Linked DNA regions of Homo sapiens: all the other regions are reported to be linked to region 1. The links are microRNA targets in miRTarBase. Many come from high-throughput screens and were not tested one by one. Region 1 holds a microRNA gene; each other region holds the end of a gene's coding sequence. Distances are between the middles of the regions.
Evidence for each region. Region 1 holds the annotated microRNA hsa-miR-1296-5p (UUAGGGCCCUGGCUCCAUCUCC, at 2,167-2,188, shown strand). A microRNA usually pairs through its seed, bases 2 to 8, with sites in the 3' UTR of a target mRNA and lowers its output. Matches are read on the target gene's strand: a 7mer-m8 pairs with bases 2 to 8, a 7mer-A1 pairs with bases 2 to 7 and ends in A, and an 8mer does both.

Region 1 (4,150 bases):
AAAAAAAAAAAAAAAAGCCAATTTTTATGTGTTGATTTCATATCCTGTTGCTTAGGTAATATCCTAGTCAATGGTGAAAGACTGAAAGCTTTTCCTCTAAGATCAAGAATAAGACAAGGGATCCCTGCTTTTGCCATGTCCACTCAACATAGTATTTGAAGTTATAGTCCAGAAATTAGACCAGAAAAAGACAAATAGCATTTAAATTGGAAAGAAAGAAGTAAAATTGTGTCTGTTCACAGATGATATAATCTTATACTTAGAAAACCATAAAGACTTCACAACAAAGCCTACTGGAACTAATAAATGAATTTGGCAAATTAGCAAGTACAAAATCTCTGCCTTCTTTTAAACATAGTTTTAGCTAACACTGCATTAAAATTGTAGATCCTGCTTTTTTGCCTAACATCTATCCTCTACATTTCTCTTCATGAGTAGTAATTTAGGATCATTTTTAATGGCTGCATAATATTTAATCTTATAATGACCCATTTCCTTAATGTTTGACATTGTAGTTTCCAGTTCTAGGGAGCATTATAAGCAACTGGGATAAATACCATTGCAAGCCTTTGTCTGCATCTCTGATTTTTTAAAATGTATATTCATAGTAGTAGAATTAATAATCACAGGGTATGAACTTGAAAGCCACAAAAATCTATCTCCTGACACTCTTCACAAATTGTGTAAAGGTTGTACTGACTGCCATTGTCCTCAGTCAGTGTTGGGGTGTTTTTATCTCACTCATCACACCCTTGTAAGCATTAATTATTTATTTGCAGTTTATCTTGTTTTAAAACACAAATATTTGGCCAAAACAGGAGGAGTTTTACATCCTAAGGGGATGCAGCATTGAATGTTACTCTTTCTCTGCTAATTGGATATTTGAAAATAATATTTCGTTGTTTCAATTTGCATTCCTTTAATAGGGTGAATTTTTTTCATGTTTATGAGCAACTTGTATTTTTAGTGAATTGTTATTTAGTACTTATTAGGGTTTTGAGTTTTTTATATTTGTTATGAGCTTTCTTTATATTATTACAGATATTATAACCTTTTTGTCATATTTCATAGTTTGCTTAGCCAGTTGTTTGATAGTAAGTCTTTTTGAATTGTATGTTTATTTTAAAGTCTATGCAATGGGATATTGTCATTAATTCCAGTAGTCAGGTTATGTGTGCTTGCCTTCCTTCCTTTTTTCTTTTGTTTTAGGAGATTGTAAAAATTAATAAACAAGTGAAGTGAGAATGCTTGTTTGTAATAATTAAGAAAATAGTCAATTTAAGTTTCATAAGCATTTTGCAAACATTTATATACAGTTGATATGACTGAGATTTTATTGTTTCCTTTTTTGTTCATTAAAATTTGGCTTCTTTAAGGATGTCTATAAACAGCAATTATAAAGTTAAGCGTTTTAAAATTCCTACAGCGTAATGAAATACTATATCTACAGATTTGAGAAATTTGAGGGATCTGTATATGAGATGGCAATAGAATGAAACAGTAGAAACTAATACTTTGTCTTTAATTTTCTACAAATTTAATGTTTCTATTTCTGTGCACATGATACTTGCTTTATGTTCTTTTGTATTTAAACATGTTTGTATTTATTATCTTCTTTCTAGTTGTTTCACTCCTCGTGTGGTACTTGTTTAATATTACATATCAGTTACGTTATCTTGTCTACCTCTTATACCTAGAAATTAGTGGAAACTGGCAGTGTACCTGCTGTTTCTTGAGATCATGACAAGACAAAAACAAATCCTGTTGTCTCATTAACATATTTTAAAGTATATTTTTTAAAACTTAACATAATTGCATCTTCAGCAAAATATGAATAGTATAATACCCAGGCTCCTTCTCTGGAATTGTCTGGTTCCTCTTTCTTTCTAGGATATCAGTAGCAAAACATTTATGGGAGCACCACATGTAAGATGCTGAAGTGGTGTCTTTTTTTGCTTGGTCCTGTACAATCAGAGTACCACTTGAGGCCATTCTAATGCTGTAGGCTGAGGTAACTTGCGTCTTCATGTAAGTTACTTAATAGATTGTTAAATTTTATTTACTTTTTAATAAAGTAAAATACTTGTGAAAGCACATTTATCGGCACCAGGGAAAGAAAGTGTTGGCATTCATAATTGAAATCAACGAATCACCTACCTAACTGGGTTAGGGCCCTGGCTCCATCTCCTTTAGGAAAACCTTCTGTGGGGAGTGGGGCTTCGACCCTAACCCAGGTGGGCTGTAACACTGCTGTGTTTTCTAAGGGGCAGAGTTTTCTACTACTTTTCCGCTGGCCCAGCCTTCCAGATCACCCCAACCAGTGCTCCTATATAACCATCCTGTGCTCCTATAGAACTTTGTTTTGTACCTCTGTTTTAACAATCAGCACATTCTGCTTTGTATTATACCTATTTGTTTGCATGTCTGTCTTCCCTTAATAGATTGTAAGTTCTTTGAGGACAGGAGTCATGTCTTAGTCATCTATGTATGGTTCCTTGGAGTCTAGCACAGTGCTTTACCCATCTCAGAAAGTAAATTCTTATTTTAAAGTGATGAATGTGCTGCAACCCAGCTAGTGAAAAAGAACCCTACTGGGAGTTATCACAAGTTTTCTGACTATTAACATATGATAATATCAAAGGACAGGAAAGCAGAATCACCCAATTGTGGTAAAACTGTGAGTTACCAATTTTAAACATGTCAATATATAATAAAAAATACTAAAAAGCTTATAATGCCAATTCTCATCAGGTACAAATTTGATTCCTGAAATCACCAAGGGGAAAAATGTAAAATTACCTGAAATGCGTTATTTTAAAGATGTTAAAGGAAGAAACAGAAGTCCTCACAATTGACTTAAATATTCAAATCTTTGATAATTTACTTGAATTTCTGAATTGAGTTTTAGGAAACTCAGACTACTTTTTCTCAATGTAGCTTTTCCTTCATAGATAGGCAATTCTGGTTCAACCAGGAATTGTGATGACATCATAAACACGTAAACTCTTAGCAATTTATTTATTTTAAAATATTCTCTTAGAGTGCTTTTTACTTACTATCTGTTCCAAAAGAAACCCCCTCAAAGGAGAATAGAGTTCACTGCTCTTTGGGACAAGATTACCTTTATATCCAGCAGTTATCAAAGTTGGTTTAGATTATGGCCTCAAGCAAATTTTACTAAAATGTGAAAATATGCCACCTTCCAAGTCAGAAATAAACTTTGGAGTATGTTCATTTAAAGAGTTTTTACATATTTATAATTGAATTTCCACAATTAGAATAAACAGTTGCATGTCTTTTTGTACTTTGTTAAATAATGAAATGGAAGTAATGACAATATAACTTCAGGATTGTTATTTCTCTACAAGGTAAAGCACTTTAAGAGATCAAATTATACATAATAAAATATTAAGCTTTTTAAATGATAAACTCTAATACTGGCATGTATTGCAATGAACGAGTTCACACACTCATATCTTGTGGATTATAAAATGACATTATTCTTTTGGAAAGTATTATGTTATAAGAACCATAAGAAGTTCATACTCTTTGATTCATTAATTCTAGTCTTAGGAAACGATGCTTGAAAAACAGTTTTTAAAAAGTGTATTCAGTTTAGCTAATGTTTGTCACGTACCTCATACGAATTAGACACTGTGGTGGGAGCTGCAGATTAAAAAAATGAAAGGTTTAATGTTATTAGAAGAAAGATGTTTATTGCAGTCTTATTAAAGAGGAAAAGAAAAATGGAACAACCTTGATGTTCAACAATTTGTGAATGCTGTTAAATTAATATTTTGGCATATTATGCAGCTTTAAAAGTGATAATTGTACATACTTTAGGAAAATGTAGAGAAAATTTAAGTAAAAAAAATTAATTACATCAGCACTAGAATTATGTATTTAAAAAGTCTTATAGACCAGGGACAGTGGCTCATGCCTATAATCCCAGCACTTTGGGAGGTTGAGGCGGGAGAATTGCTTGAGTCCAGGAGTTCAAGACCAGCCAGGGCAGCATAGCTATACCCTCATCCCTACCAAAAAAAAAAAAAAATTAGCCTATTGTAGTGGCGCAAGCCTTGTAGTCCCAGCTACTCAGGAGGTTGAGGTGGGAGGATTGCTTGACTCCAGGAGTACAAGGCTATGGTGA
Region 2 (4,000 bases), not on the chromosome of region 1:
CTTTGGCGCGCACACAGCCCCCCACGGGGGTGGCCATCAAGTAGAGCAGGGGACCCAGCTCCGGGCCTGGGGGTGCAGGGGACGCCACCCCAGGATGTTTGAGGGGACAAGCAGTGAGAGGGCTGGCGGGAAAGTGTAGGTTTCCAGGCCCGAAAACAGCACGTCCCAGGTCCCTGGAGTGCAGCAGGTGAGGGATGGAGGCCAGCCTGCCTCCTGTCAGGTCATGCTCCTGCTCCAGCTCCCCTGGGGCTCTGGGACCTGGGAGGGCAGTGAGAGGTGGGAGCTGAGCTGAGTGGGTTTCTAACCTACGTCCAGAGGGGAGTGAGTGGTGTCGTGTTCTGGTCCCAAGGAGTGGCGTAAAAGGTGACCACCCATAGGGCAGGCGCCCCACCCTTGCCAGCTGCGGGTCATGCCATGTGGCACCAAGAGACTCTGCAGGCGGGCAGGGCGCATGTGTTCCTTGCTCTCGTTCTGTCACAATGCTGCTCACGCATCTCTCCCGTTCCTTCCAGAAACCAGTAAAGACAGCTCTGGCACCAAGCCAGCCAACAAGCGGCCCATGTCCTCTCCAGAAATGTAAGCAGGAAGCCCCTCTCGGGAACCTTCTGAGACTAGGGGTGGAAATAGCTGGGTTCAGCCTCTTGTCAAATGACTGGGGGCCCCTAACCGGCCCTGCACCAGCAGGGCCTCCAGTGGTGCAGGGCCCACACTAACTTTCTCTTTCCTTTTTCTGCCTTCCAAGGAAATCTGCTCCAAAGAAATCTAAGGCCGATGGTCAGTGAGAGGAAGCTGACTAGCCCCTGGATTCTTCTCCAGACCCCCCTGCTTCAGGAACACCCGCCAGGGCCCACCCCTCCCACCCCGTCCCAGCATTCGCACTTCACCCTCGCGAGCCGCTGTTCACTCCTCTCCCCTTTCTCTTTCTCTCTGTTTTTAAAATAATCTAAAGAAAGCACATTTTACCATTGCTGTTGGGAGGAAGCAGAGGCAGATGGGAAAGCAGAGAGAGGAGCGCGCTTCCTTTCCTCCCCGCTGCCGCCCACCCTGGGGAGAGACTTTTGCGGGGAGGGAAGGCGGAGCTGAGGACAGCCAGCTCCGCCCTCCCAAGGCTGTGCGTTCCTGAGGGCCAGGTCGGGGGCAGGCATGGAGGGGAGGAAAGGCGTCCCTCTTGGCCCTCCCCAGAGTGGCTTTCCTGGCACCCTGGCCTGGGTGTCTGGTTCTGTTTTCTTTTCTTCCCCTTGTGTTTCCAGTCACCTAACTTCCCTTCCTCAGGCTCCCCCGGCCCACCCTGCTCAGTGACCCCACAGGAAGCTTACACATTTTCTCAGAGGCCTTTGTGCTCCCACCTCTTCTACCCTCCCCCTCTTCTTTCCCATTTTAAAAAAGAAAAGAAGGAAAAAGAAAAAAGGGGCAAGGAGCCCCGCGGCGGCCTGGGCAGCGCCTGTGCAGACCTCCCTGCAGGCCGCACTGCCAACTGCTGCATTTGTTGTGTTTTTTAGGTTGCAATTGGTGAAGTTCACACTTTCATTGTAATTTTAGCGTGTGGGGTTTTGTCCCTTTTTTGTTGTTGTTAGCTGTGTACAGAATGTGTAATCTTTTTTCTTTTCTCTTTTTTTTGTTTTGTTTTGTTTTGTTTTTGTTTTTTTACTTTTTTCTTCTTGGCTAATTCTTGGCAGGGATCTTTCTGGAGGAAAAGCTGGGGCCAGCCAGGGCAGGAGAGGTGTGAAATCTGCCACGAGGGGCCTGCTGTTTGCCACCCAGCCCAACTTCCTGTTGCTGGCCCCTGCCCTCTGCCCTTTTGCCTGTCCTCAGGCCGCTGGAACAAAGGAAGGACAGCTCATTCCTCATGGGCGATCACTCCGCATCTATAGGGTCGAGCCTAGGGGAGCTTGAGGGAGGGCTGGGGCCTCCTTGTCCTGGATTTCCAGCTCTCCCCATGCCCCCTCCCTGAGCACCACCGGCACCGCCTCCCAAACAGGGCTGCTGGTTTCCGCAGCCACTGCTCCACCTCCCCCAAATCGTCATGGAAAGGGTGGAGAATGGAGGGGAACCAGGCGTCCTTGGAGGCAGCTTGGGAGGGTGACTGTGTAGTGTCACCCACAAGGGAGGCTAGGGCAATGGAGCAGGCCACCAGCAGCAGCTGTGCAGCATGGAACTCAGGCCAGGCTCCGAGGCTGGGGGATCTGCTTGGAGTTTTCTGCCCCCCACCCCAAACTTCTGTCGAGGAGCAAGGCTTGCCAGCAAGTCAGAAGGATTTGAACCGAGCAGCCAATCTTTCCAGCCCTCCCCTACCGACCTCTGCCTGGAGACGCAGCAGCCTGTGTCCTCCAGGGCCTCTGGTTTGTTGTATTATAGTATATTTCGCTGTGGAAAATGTCACGTTTAGTCACCTTGGAGCCCACTCACCTGGTCCTGTTGTTTTACCCCATCCCTTCTCTCGCGCGCCTATTGATTTGTTTCTGAGGAGAGTACACCGTTCACTATTGTAGAGTAACCCCTGTGACTCAATATTACCATAGTGCGATGTCGTTTTGTGCTATTTTGAACAATTAAAAGACTTTTTTTGAAATAACCACTAGGTGTCTCACTGTGTCCCGGCATCCTCTCAGGAAGCCTGAGCGGGAAGGCTGAGACCTGCCCGAGGCTCACGGGAGCCCCCTGGAGGGAGACCTGAGCTCTGGTGAAAGCGTAGAAGGCCCCAGAGTGAGGCCTCTGCTGTGGCCTCCGGTCTTTGGACCAAGTCGGACCAGGGTCCAGCAGGTTGCTTGGTAGCTGCCTTGCAGGGCAAGGGCCAAAGAGCCCCTTGGGCAGCTGCTGCTGACTTCCTGTGTCTGGGGCCCAGATCTCCCTCCCTCCCCTCCTGCACTAGAGGATAGGATGGGGCAAGGGCCTGGCAGGTCACCAGCGGCAGCCTCCTTGGGTGGGTTGGGGGGAGGTGGGCTGAGTCAAGTACACCACGGGTACTGCAGAGGTGGATCCCTTCCTCTGGCTTCCTCTTAAATGTGAGCCATGCCCCCAAGGGGAAGAAGCAAGAGCTTGTGATCCAGACTGACCACCTAGCAGCTGGGTCGGTAGGACAGCTGGGATCCCGTGGGCTGAATTTGTACCAGGAGGCCCAGAAAGCTCCGGGGCAAGGTGGCCGGAGCAGCACAGGCCTAGGCGGGTCTGAGGGGAGTGACACCCTGCTTCTGGGGCCTGGTGCTCCTGGCGCACCTGCATTCCCCGCCCCCTCCAAGCCCCTGCCGCCTGCCTTTGTTTCCCCTACACACCTCTACTGCCCAGCCTTCCTCTCAGAGCACCCAGGCACTCCGCTACCAGAAGCTCCTGGAGTAACCAAAGCCTCCGTGTCTCCACCTGTGGCATGGGTGTGTGTGCAAGGCCCTGTCGAATGCGACCTCTTCTGGGAAGCCTCTGTCCTGTGGGGTCTGCTGTGTCATGTGGGGGTGGGGGGAAGCAGACTGGCCAGGGCTTGACACCAGGAGCCATGGCTCTGTCTTACCCACCGCACCAACTGTGACCTGCCTTGGAGCCTAGCCTCGCAGAGGCCCAAGGAGAGGGGTGGGAAAGTGTCCTTCAGAGCAGAGCGGTAGGAGTCATGGCTGGGGCTGGTGGAGGCCAGGGGCCACATGGGGCTGGCCCCAGAACCGAGGGGCCTTGCGGATTTGCCATACCTTTGGCAAATGGCGTTGTGGGCGCTTCGCCTGGTGGGGGTGGTACAAGGCTTCTTCCTACCCCACTTCTGTAGCTGGCACCTGTGGGGCTACCCACCCTCCGCATTCCTTCAGCTCACTTGTCTCACCGCGGCTGCATCACACTCCACAAGGCAAGGGCCACATCAGTCATGCCTCTGGTGTTTATCTGAAAATACCGCGTTTCCGTCTGAGGGCACCACTCAGTCTGGGGAGGCAGGAGGGAGGCTGGACATGAATGTGAACATGACAGGCCTGTGAGCAGGGCAGGTAGATACAGCCCGGCTGGGCACAAAGCTCATCCCCTGAGC
Region 3 (4,000 bases), not on the chromosome of region 1:
AGGTTGCAGTGAGATGAGATCGTGTCATTGCACTCCAGCCTGGGCAACAACGTGAAACTCCGTCTCAAAAAAAAAAAATTGTTTCATTGTTGAATAAAAAGAAAAATAAGTTATGTCATTGGTGGACAGAATCAACTTATATCTGAATAAAATAACTATACCAATTAAAACTAAAGTAGGCCAGGCGTAGTGGCTCACGCCTATAATCCCAGCACTTTGGGAGGCCAAGGTGGGTGGATCATTTGCGATCAGGAGTTTGAGACCAGCGTGGCCAACATAGTGAAACCCTGTCTCTACTAAAAATACAAAATTAGCCAGGCAAGGTGGTGGGCACCTGTAGTCCCAGCTACTTGGAGGATTGAGGCAGGAGAATCGCTTGAACCTGGGAAGCAGAGGTTGCAGTGAGCTGAGATCACACCACTATACTCCAGCCTAGGCAAGAGTAAGACTCCATCTCAAAAAAAAAATAAAAATAAAAATAAAATAAAAACAAAAACTAAAGTTAAAAGGTCTGGTATACTGAACTGGTAAACTAATTACAATTTTGCTTTCCAACCTCCTCAAGTATTTAAAAGACCCAACTCAGCCCATCTTAGAGGCCTTGGACAAGGACAGCTCACCAAAGGATGACGTCTGGGACTCTGTGTCCATTATCTCGTTTCCGGAAAAGGAGCAAGAAGATGTTCTCCAAACGCTTTGAACCAAAGCATGGGCCTAGCCCACTGGCTCCCTGGAAGAGATCAAGCCATCGGAGCTGCTAGAGTTCTGTCTGGACTTTCCAGAGACCAGTATTCCCTTTTGCTGCCTCTAAAAGGCCTGTCCCTGCAGACATGAGAGACAGCAGGTCTCATGGGGGTGACAAGCTTTTTTTTTTTTTCTTAAAGAATTTTCAAAATCAAATTCCAGAATGATTTTACGGAGATATCCCAGGAAAATTAAGGCTTCTCTTAAACACTAAAAAGGCATGTAATTGCTTGTTAGCAAAATGGATATGACACATCTCTGATACTTTTTTCATTATTGGTTGGGCTGAGCAGTCAGAAGACCTGGTCGTCGTCTTGACTTTGGCAAATGAGCCGGAGCCCCTTGGGCAGGTCACACAACCTGTCCCAGCGAGGGACACCGAGTGGCCCTTCATGTACATCCATGGTGTGCTGGCTTAAAATGTAATTAATCTTGTAAATATACTCCTAGTAATTTAAGATTTTGTTTTTAAACTGGAAATAAAAGATTGTATAGTGCATGTTTTTTAAAGTCTATGTGAAGTGTTTTCTTTATTGTAGCCTATTTTCTGCAGAGTTTCAGCTTTCTAAAATTACTCAATCTAAACTTGTTTTTTCTTAAATAACACCTGCTAGAGCTACTGAGGCCTCATGGGAACTCAGCAAACACTTCCTATGGATGTCACTTGATCCTCCAAAGGTTATAAAGAAGGCCAGGGCCTAGTGCAGTGGCCCACGCCTATAATCCCAGCACTTTGGGAGGCTGAGGTGGGTGGATCACTTGAGGCCAGGAGTTCTAGACCCACCTGGGCAACATGGTGAAACCCTGTCTCTATGAAAAATGCAAAAATTATCCAGGCATGATGACATGCACCTGTAGTCCCAGCTACTTGAGAGGCTAAAGTGGGAGGATGCTTTAGCCTGGGAGGCGGAGGTTACCATGAGCCGAAATGATGCCACTGCACTCCAGCGTGGGAGGCAGAGCGAGACCCTATCTCAAAAAAAAAAAAAAAAAGAGGGCTGGGCATGGTGGCTCATGCCTGTAATCCCAGCACTTTGGGAGGTCAAGATGGGAGGATCGCTTGAGGCCAGGAGTTTGAGAACAGCCTGGGCAACATAGTGAGACCTTGTTTTCACAAAAAATAAAAAATTAGCTAGTCGTGGTGGTGCACACCCGTAGTCCCAGCTACTCAGGAGGCTGAGACCAGAGGATCATTTGAGCCTAGGAGTTAGGAGTTCAAGGCTGCAGTGAGCAATGATTACACCACTACATTCCAGCCTTGGCAACAGAGCAAGAGACCCTGTCTCAAAAATATAAAAGTTATAAGGGGGATTTGCAGAAGGCACATTAGCACTTCATTTATATGTGACAAGTCACACTGTGTTGACCAAGGCAGGGATTTGTGGGCAATAAAGAGAATTAACTGATTAATCAATAGTAATGTTATCTACTGAGCACGCAAGTCATCTGATTGTGTCAGTACTGTCGGGCTCTGTTGTTCAAAGGATATGTATTTAAAATCCATTTATAGGCTGGGCACGGTGGCTCACACCTGTAATCCCAGCACTTTGGGAGGCCGAGGCAGGCAGATCACCTGAGGTCAGGAGTTCGAGACCAGCCTGGCCAACATGGTGAAAGCCTGTCTCCACTAAAAGCACAAAAATTAGCTGAGTGTGGTGGCAGGCACCTATAATCCCAGCTACATGGGAGGCAGTTGGGGCCCTGTACTGCTGGTAAGAAAGTGGCTTTTTTTTTTTCTTTTGAGACAGAGTCTCACTCTGTCGCCCAGGCTGGAGCGCAGTGGCGCGATCTCAGCTCGCTGCAACCTCCACCTCCCAGGTTCAAGCAATTCTCCTGCCTCAGCCTCCCGAATAGCTGGGATTACAGGCGTGCACCACTATGCCTGGCTAATTTTTGTATTTTTAGTAGAGATGGGGTTTCACCATGTTGGCCAGGCTGGTCTCGAACTCCTGACCTCATGATCCACCCACCTTGGTCTCCCAAAGGGTTGAGATCACAGGCGTGAGCCACCGTGTCCGGCAAAAGTGGCTAACTCTCTTAAGTGTTGTGTACCATGCTGTCTGCAGTGGCAAGAGTTAGAAAAACAAGGCCCACTCCCACCCCATGCACACAAGTCTCCCTGTGAAGCATCTGTTGTATGCATTAGGTGCACCTTAAGTAGACAAGTTTGGAGGAAGAAGTTGTAGATAGGAGTTGTAAAGACTTACCTTAGACCGTTCAGGAAATCGGAGACAGAAGAGCTTCTTCTGTTGGGCAGCAGGATGGTGGCCAGCGAGGAGTGGAGGATACATCTATAGCAGGAGAACAGGAAAGAGTTTCAGCCCAGCAGGACAGAGGGCAAATCAACTCTGTTAGGGTAAGTGCATCTGTGCCACCCCATTTATTTATTTAGAGACACAGTCTCACCCTGTTGCCCAGGCTGGAGCGCAGTGGCACAATCTCACTTCACTGCAACCTCTGCCTTCCGGGTTCAAGCGATTTTTGTGCCTCAGCCTCCAGAGTAGCTGGGATTACAGATGTGCGCCACCACACCCAGCTAATTTTTGTATTTTTAGTAGAGATGGGGTTTCACTATGTTGGTCAGGCTGGTCTCAAACTCCTGACCTCAGGTGATCCGCTCACCTCAGCCTCCCAAAGTGCTGGGATTACAGGTGTGAGCCACTGTGCCCAGCCTTAAATAGTATTTTCTGAAATGAAATGCCTCATTCTCCTTAGTAAAATAAATGACTAATTGATGGGATTAGTATTTACACTGTCAAGGCCAGGCGCAGTGGCTCACACCTGTAATCCGAGCACTTTGAGACCCTGAGGTGGGTGGATCATGAGGTCAGGAGTTTGAGACAAGCCTGGTCAACATGGCGAAAACCTGTTTCTATTAAAAATACAAAAATTAGCTGGGCGTGGTGGCTCACACCTGTAATCCCAGCTACTTGGGAAGCTGAGGCAGGAGAATCACTTGAGCCCGAGAAGCGGAGGTTGCAGTGAGCTGACATGGCACCTCTGCACTCCAGCCTGGGCAACAGAGCAAGACTCTGTCTCAAGAAAAATAAAGTCAAGCTAAGTACATTGTCAAAATTTTTGAGTTGGAAGCACTCTTATAAATAATCCGTTGACAGGGCATAATCCATAACCTACTTGCCAAATCAGCCCATTCCCTGTTTTTGTAAAACCCGTGTGCTAAGAATAGCTTTTACATCTTGGAATAGTTAAAGTCAAAAGAAGAATATTTCATCACACATGAAAATTCTATGATATT
Region 4 (4,000 bases), 21 Mb from region 1:
TGTCTGAGAGCATTCTGATACTCACCGGCTTTTGTCCTTGTCAGATCCTTGCACTGCTGGATGCTCTGAGTACGGTGCATAGTCAGAAGATGAAGAAGGCCAAGGAGCAGCGGCACCTGCACAATAAAGAGCACTTCAGAGCCAAGCAGAAGGAGGAGGAGGAGAAGCTGAAGCGGCAGAAGGACCTCAGGAAGAAGCTCTTCAGAATTCAGGGGCAGAAGGAAAGAAGAAACCAGAAGTCCAGTTTGAAGGGGGCTGAGGGCCAATTGCAGTGAGCCTTTGGACTGGAGGGACTGTCCCTGGATCTGCGGAGGTAGACAGTTTCAAACATCACAGTTTGAATGCCTGTGAATGACAAGTCAGTGGGAAAGAGCTCAAGAGATGTCTCTACTCAAACTGTGCCTGCAGGAGGAGGAACAGAGAAGCCTGGGCTGCTGGGACTGGGTTCATTCTCATGACTTGGGGCTGTCGAGATTTAAAGTGATGTAAGCTGTGGTTATGTGGATTCTCTTACTTTCCTCTGCCTGCCTCAGTTTAATTATTTTGTCCTACAGAAATATCATTAAAATATTTTTTTGTTACTTTTGGCTTAGTAGTTTTCATTAGGGATGAATGCCTGACAATTCTTTGTGGATAATTATTTATACTACCACCTTCATGAGGAGTCTTCCAGAAGAGAAAGAAATATTCACTTGAACTCTGAGCTCCCATGGAAGATTTTAGAGAATAGTGTGTAGTGTTTTTGTTTTGTTTTTTGTTTGAGTGACACACAAACCTAGATGGTACAGCCTACTGTGCACCCAGGATCTATGGGCTCCTTTGATCACTGGCCCTTGTGGACATTTTCTATCTTATTTCATATGTTCTGCACATTAGTATAGTGACAAGGTAACAGTAAGTACTTTTTTAAAGCTTTAGACTTAGGAGATTATTGTCTCAGGTGCAGAGACCAAGGAAATCGTATGTATCAGTGAGATAGGCTTCCCGTATTATGCTCATGCGTTATACCTGCCTAGCTACATTGCCTTTTTTTAAATTAAACATTATGTTGAAGTAATCATACTATTACATAGGCGATGTATGTATTTTATGATTGTATGTTGATATAGTTATGGGGAATCTATTCCTATACGATGTAATCATAGATTCACATATAGTTGTATATTTTGCCCAATTTCTCTCAGTGGTAATGTTTCACACATATAACAATCAGGATGTTGACATCAATACAGCCCGCTGATTTTATTCACATTTCCCCAGCTTTACTTTCCCCAACGTATACTCCTCCATGTATGCATGGGTGTGTAGAAATATGGAACGCAGCTGGGCACAGTGACTCACGCCTGTAATCCCAGCACTTTGGGATGCTAAGGCAGGAGGATCACTTGAGCCCAGGAATTTGAGACCAACTTGGGCAACATGGCAAAACCTCATCGCTACAAAAAATAAAAAATTCGCCAGGTGTGGTGGGTGCACACCTGTAGTTCCAGCTGCTTGGGAGGCTGAGGTAGGAGGATCACTTGAGCTTGGGAGGTTGAGGCTGCAGTGAGCCATGATAGCACCACTGCACTCCAGCCTGGGCGACAGGGCAAGACCCTGTTTCAAAAAAAAAAAATTATACATATATGTATGTAGAACACTTCATGAATTTGTGTGTCATCTGTGCATGGGGCCCATGCTGACCTCTGTGTTGTGCCAGTTATAGTATGTGTGCTGCTGATATGAGTGCCACATTGCCTTTACAACATCATAGGGGCCAAAGAGGGTTGGCAGGATTATGAGCAGTTGGCCTAGTCTGAGAGGCTCTCTAAAAGCCTAAAGTCTGTAGGCAGGTGCTCAGCTTTGTATCTCCATAAGAAGGGAAGAGGATGTGAGGATCCTGTCAGGGCTAGGTCCACCTGGGAAGTGACAATTGGAACACTCCCAGACCTCTCTGGGCAACTCTGGGTGTACATTTTCCTCTGTTCCTCAAGAGCTATTATGAATTTCATCATCCATTATGCTGATAGGCCTGGGGACTGACACATAGTAAGCCCATAACAATTATAATTTAAAACTAATTTGTTATATAGCATAATTGATATATTTTAAAATGCAAAACTATAATTCAACTAAAATATACAAGGCACTCAAGTCATACCATGTTTTAAGTAGCTTACAAGGTGATCAGCAAGTGTCTTATACAACAAGCAAATTTGTTCAAAGAGAAGCATTGCAAATAAGTATTTATAATTGTATAGTTTTATATTTTAGCCAGAAGAGTGGAATCCTTTAGCAATGGGGGAAATAAAAGAATGTTTAATTACAGTTGCAGATAATTGCCTTTTCCAAAGACAATGTATGTAGGCAGAACTCATACCTGTTAATATTAAAAATCTTGGTTTATCATATTTGGAGAACAAGGGAAATAAAAAGTTTGCATATTAAGATTATTTAAACTAAAGTTAAGGAATCTCTAATGTCTGAAAGAAACAATAAATAGCATTTTTCATGTAGAATTTTTATTGGTGAAGGTTCCACCTGGCCAGGTTAGTAAAATACAGTCACACATCAGTTAAGGATGGGGATATATTCTGAGAAATGTATCATTAGGCAATTTTGTCATTGTGTAAACATCATAGAGTGACACACAAACCTAGATGGTACAGCCTACTGTGCACCTGGGCTCTATGGTATGGCCTGTTGCTCCTAGGCTACAAACCTGGGCAGCATGTGACTGTACTGACTACTGTAGGCAGTTGTAACACAGTGGTAAACATTTGTGTATCGAAACATAGAAAAGGCGTAGCAAAAATACAGTATTGTGGAACCACTGCCATATACGTGGTCCATCCTTGACTGAACATCATGCGGCATGTGGCTGTATGTATACACATAGTTTTTGCTGTGAGTTTGCATCCATCTCATAGGAAGACATATATCAAAATAAGGACCAGACTGGAGAGTGTGTAAATTACTTTTCAATACTAATGGCTTATTAATTTGATATTGTCAGCAAGTATGTTGCAAAAACAAATTCCACCAGAATGTGAGTTCCATGAGAGCAGGAACTGGGTTGTTCACCTTGTTGGCACTTGGAGTAGAGCCACTGAGCTTCGTGCTGCATAAAATTGCTTGGAAGAAAGAAGGGAGGGCATTCCAGGTAACTGAAGCATTGCTATGCAAAGTAAGCATTTGCCCTCTGAAATATTTTAACAATGTTTATAGAAACCTTTCTCAATTGTATTAAACTTTGTAAATTGTAAAAATTATTCTGTTATACCTTTTCTATTTACTAGGCACAGGCAGCCATAGGTGCTAGGTATGTTTTGAAAACATATTGAACCTACAGTGTACATATCATTCCATGCCATTAAATATTCTTATTTAATCATAGATGTGTTCAGGTGTGTTTGGTTTCCTATTTGTGGATGTACTAGATTGTTTTCTTTTTTTAACAAAACCTGTGAACTTGCTTTAAGTATTATCATTTGGTGACATGCCCGCCATTTCAGAAATAAATGTTTGAGCAAAGAGGAAAGCCACCGGGTCTGATTCAGCTCTCTGGAGGCTCCAGAGCTTACCTCGCTGATGGGAAAAAGAGCATCGATTTAATTGCCCTTGGTACCGACTTCTAGTATCTAGTATTTTGCCAGACTCAGGTATTTCTTAAAGCCATTATTCAGAGTCTTCAGCAAGGACATTGTATTTTACTTGTGTCTCCTTAGTTTTACCTAGTTTATTTCATGGTTTTAAAGTATTGTACATTTTTATAATCCTTTAACAAGACAAAAGGTTGAGATGTTGGACATTTAAATGCCAAAGGTGTTTTATTATGAGACTTAGCATTTCATATTTGGGGATGGTACCTTATCGAAAATCAGATAAACTTTGGTTGGATGGGTATTTGGAGGAATCTTTTAAGTCTTTTCTTAAGCAAAGTTTGGACACTCTAAAATAAGGTTGCCAACTGGCATGTAGAGAGAAAAGGATGTGTCATACATTTAGACCAGGTGGCCTG
Region 5 (4,000 bases), not on the chromosome of region 1:
AGAGAAAGAAGCTGGGGGCTCAGGTAAATCTGGACAGGCCAGACTCTGGGAGCCCTGGGAGGGTGGAAAAGTGGGTTTCATCTCTCTCCACTCCCTTCCAGATGAGGAGCAGGAGAAGGGCAGCAGCAGTGAGAAGGAGGGCAGTGAAGATGAGCACTCGGGCAGCGAGAGTGAACGGGAGGAAGGTGACAGGGACGAGGCCAGTGACAAGAGTGGCAGTGGTGAGGACGAGAGCAGCGAGGATGAGGCCCGGGCTGCCCGTGACAAAGAGGAGATCTTTGGCAGTGATGCTGATTCTGAGGACGATGCCGACTCTGATGATGAGGACAGAGGACAGGCCCAAGGTGGCAGTGACAATGATTCAGACAGCGGCAGCAATGGGGGTGGCCAGCGGAGCCGGAGCCACAGCCGCAGCGCCAGTCCCTTCCCCAGTGGCAGCGAGCACTCGGCCCAGGAGGATGGCAGTGAAGCTGCAGCTTCTGATTCCAGTGAAGCTGATAGTGACAGTGACTGAGTCCCAGGGCATTCAGGGCTGGTTCAGACACCATTATTGTGAGCAGCAAAGCACTTTTCTAGTGGTCTGTTTGTGAGCCTTTCACTTGTTTGTTCCCCACCCCCAAACCTTTGCTGTTAATAAAGTCAACTTCTCTTTACTTCCCCTCCCAGCCCCTATGATGTCATTCAGCCCAGCACATACCTCCCGCAACCCCCAGGTGCTCAAGGATCTTGGCTTGAGGCTTAGAAACACAGGCCAGAGGCAGGGCCAATGGTTTCCCACAAAATGTAGCACAACGAAGGTCAGAATTCGTTTTTTTTGTTTGTTTTTTTTTTTTCCAAAATAAGCCCAGACCATTAAACAAGTGAAACTCCAACAAATAAGTCTTCTCCAACAGCGAGAAAAACTGTACAGTTACTCAAAGCTGATTCTGCCAGTGGGGCCGGGGACAGAAGTGGGTAGGGAGGGTGAAATCATGGAGGAGGGCCTGGGGAGGGGGCTGGAGCGGGAGAGGGTCAGGGTCCTGCCCATCAGAGTGGGGCCGCCTGCGTCCTGCACACTCTGCTGTCAGGTGGGGTGGGGGGCAGCTCTTGCCTCCCTGTGTGTGTGAGACGGTGTCCCTCACCACCTCCCAGTGCCAGGCACAGTCAGCTCACCCTGATGGAGAGTGAACAAGACAGGACAGGCTGGGGAGAGGGGAGGGTCCCATGAGAGGGACACCCTGCTGATTCCAAACGAGGTGGCCCATCCATCCCACTTCCTGCAGCTAGTGGGAGGGGGACTGGAGAAGCCCTGGGAGATTGAGGGGATGAGCAAAGGCACAGAAACATGGAGGGCCGGGGTGGGGGACTTGCATAGGTTGATGAGTGTGCAAGAGGTACATAAATAAACCTGACACCCCACCCAGCCCGGCACTGGGAGAGGAAGTGGGGACCCAGAGCCAGGTTCCCAGGGCCACCCTACCCCCTGGCTTCTTCCCCCTCCCTGGGCTCAGAGCAGAGGGAAGTCCACAGACCAGGAGGGCGGGGGCAAGAAGGTCTGGGGAATGGGGTGATAGTGCAGGGAGGGTGGTGGTTTTAAAATTTTTTTTTTTTTTGTTTTTTTTGTTTTTTTCCCAACATTTTGTATCTTTAATAACATACACAATGGTTACCAGCCATATTCATAACAAAAGTTATTCATAAAATGTATCTAAAAATAACATTTTTTTTCCTTTTCGGTGTGAAAAGCTTGAGAATGTCCCAGTTGGGAAGGTGGGTTGAGGGGGAGGAGGGCGTTGAAGAGGGAGACCCTGGCTTCCCCGCAGTCTGAACCCCCAAATCCCCTCCCTCCACCTGGGCCCCAACACAACCCCTCATTAGGAATAGGGACCAGACAGTCTGTCGGACTCTGGGGCTGGGACGAATCTCTGGGTTATGATATAGTGTTCCACTTAAGTGAGGTCATGACATAATGGGGGAAGGAAAAAGGCTGAAAGAAAAGGGAGGGGCTTAGGGAAAAACCCAAAAACCAAACAATCCCCTTTCCCTTATTCCTGACTCCCAAGTCTCACCAACCAGACCTGGGAGCGGAGAAGGGTGTGTGTTCGTGGGGAAGGGGACGTTAAGGCAACAGACTTCCTGACCTCACTGGCTACCCTGGCTGCCCACCTCCAACCTCTTCATCCGGGTAGCCAGGGCTGGAGGAAAATGGGTTAGAGCTTGAGGGTCTGGAGGAGGGGGCTCTGCCCTCTCCCCTCATAAAGTTCAGGCTCTCCCTGCCACTGTCTTGGCTGAGAGAGACCTGGGGATTCTAAAAATGAGAGGAAATGATCAGAGAAAAACCGTTAAGAACTATATAAATATGTATCTTAAATAGGCCTAAGAAATTAATCATAGAGAACCTCTGGTGAACAGGGCCAGGGGAGGTGAGAGAGAGGAAGGTGGCTCCTGTCCTTGCAGAATGTGGGGAATGGTGAAGGGGAAGCAGGGAGAGGAGAGAGAGCTTCCTCTCCTTGCTCCCCTTCCTTCTCCCCAGCTCCTCTCAATAACATTCTGGAGGGCAGGTTCTCTGCCCTGCGCGTCACCCCAAATGTCAAATGTTTCTGAGCAGGCTCCACAAGGTAGTGGTCAGTTTGTCTCTGGGGAGTCTGCTCCCTTGGGGAGAGGCAGGTGGTCAGCGGTCTGGAGGAGGCAGGGGTGGGATGGGACCAGGTGGGGATGAGGAAGGAAAGGAGAGAGGCAGGCAGTCTGGCCAGTCCCTGCCCCCTTTATCCTGGCTGCCCCCAACTCCCCGGGCCTCAGCAGAGATCCCTCGACGGGCCTGGGAGTGAGCAAGGCATGTGCCAATGTTAAACAAAAGTTAAGAGGGTAAGAGAGTAGAAAAATATTAGAATATATAGCTGAGCCAGCCCACCCTCTCGCTGTCGCGGAGAAGCCCGTTGGGGGTTGGCCCCCGCCCGCCGCCCAGGGAGCCTATGGGTGCGCTGGGCTGTGGGTCCCGTCAGATGGTGGAGGTTTTGTCTGTCCCATCTGTGGTAAGAAAGGGAGGAAGGGAGGAAGATCAGGAGCTGGAGGGAGGCCCAAGAAAAGGCACTCAGGTAGCCTGTCATCCCAGTCAGGCCCTCCCTGGAGTCTGGCCTCCCCTGGGGACCCCTCAGGATGACTCTGAGTTGCTCAGTTCAGAGGCAGAGACGCTGGGTAGGTGGGAGCTGGGTCAGGGAAAGAGGAAATGCTCACCACCCAAGGCGTGTTCTGTCATGCTCAGACACAGAGACTCCAGAGTGGGATTGATCTCCAGGTCAGGCCCAGGAACCGGGCAGTCTGGGTGGGAGAGAGGAGAATGGGGGTGGTAAGGACCAACTGGACTCAGGTGAAGACAGCTGGGATGACAAAGGATGCTGGTATGGGAAGGGAGCAAGAGAGATGGAGGGGGAGAGGGAAGAACGGGAGGAGGTGGACAGGGAGAGAGGCGAGCGTGTCACACAACAGGCAGAGGAGACAATGGCAATGGCAGAGGCTTGGCAATACAGAAAAAGCCCGACTTGCAGAGAGTGGAATTGAAACTGAAGGAGCTCCTGGAGGCCACACACAGCCTGCTGTGACTACTCTGGACACAGACTGCATACTGTCTTGAGCACAGTCTGGGCATCTGCCCTGGACACTGGGCAGCCCCCAAGGCTCCCTGATTGAAGACCTGCTCTGTACTTGGTGCAAAAGCTAAATCAAAACCCTTCCTGTCCCCACTTGGACCTGCTCCTCTGGGCAGGATTCAATCCAGGCAGGCCAGGCAGGTGGGGGCAAAGTAGGACAACCACCATGGGACTTGTCCTCAAACCACACTTCTCAAAAGGGCCTCCTATTCGGGCATCTGGGAAACCACCCACCTCCCTGGGCAGACCTGACCTCCCTCACTACACTGCTTAAACCCTTCCCTGACTCCTCACTGCCATCAGGACAAAGTCCGAGCTGTTTACCTGGATTTAGACGACCCAGCTCCCATCTCCACCCTCATCTCTCATCACTG

Region 2: miRTarBase lists HCFC1 as a target of hsa-miR-1296-5p. The part of its 3' UTR that is shown has no 7-base or 8-base seed match.
Region 3: miRTarBase lists IFNGR2 as a target of hsa-miR-1296-5p. The part of its 3' UTR that is shown has no 7-base or 8-base seed match.
Region 4: the mRNA of BMS1 is a reported target of hsa-miR-1296-5p. The part of its 3' UTR that is shown has no 7-base or 8-base seed match.
Region 5: miRTarBase lists PAF1 as a target of hsa-miR-1296-5p. The part of its 3' UTR that is shown has no 7-base or 8-base seed match.

What each region holds. Positions count from the first base shown.
Region 1 is chr10:63,371,050-63,375,199 of GRCh38, reverse strand. It overlaps MIR1296 (microRNA 1296), which reads left to right and starts at 2,152; the gene lies at 2,152-2,243. All of the region lies in intron 2 of JMJD1C (jumonji domain containing 1C), which reads left to right.
Region 2 is chrX:153,946,129-153,950,128 of GRCh38, reverse strand. HCFC1 (host cell factor C1) reads left to right here. Exons shown (of 26, transcript NM_005334.3): 25 at 513-576; 26 at 743-2,572. The coding sequence ends at 782. Among named protein-coding and RNA genes, the nearest start is that of RENBP, 3.5 kb to the right of the region's middle. RefSeq lists an enhancer at 1,865-2,404.
Region 3 is chr21:33,436,263-33,440,262 of GRCh38, forward strand. It overlaps IFNGR2 (interferon gamma receptor 2), which reads left to right. Exons shown (of 7, transcript NM_005534.4): 7 at 566-1,254. The coding sequence ends at 700. It also overlaps a transcript of TMEM50B not described here. Among named protein-coding and RNA genes, the nearest start is that of IFNGR2, 35 kb to the left of the region's middle.
Region 4 is chr10:42,830,822-42,834,821 of GRCh38, forward strand. BMS1 (BMS1 ribosome biogenesis factor) reads left to right here. Exons shown (of 23, transcript NM_014753.4): 23 at 45-4,000. The coding sequence ends at 275. It also overlaps the pseudogene RNU6-885P. Among named protein-coding and RNA genes, the nearest start is that of LINC02623, 39 kb to the right of the region's middle.
Region 5 is chr19:39,382,505-39,386,504 of GRCh38, reverse strand. It overlaps PAF1 (PAF1 component of Paf1/RNA polymerase II complex), which reads left to right. Exons shown (of 14, transcript NM_019088.4): 13 at 1-23; 14 at 102-876. The coding sequence ends at 514. SAMD4B (sterile alpha motif domain containing 4B) reads right to left here. Exons shown (of 14, transcript NM_001384574.2): 13 at 3,214-3,297; 14 at 805-3,006. The coding sequence ends at 2,978. Among named protein-coding and RNA genes, the nearest start is that of PAF1, 6.6 kb to the left of the region's middle.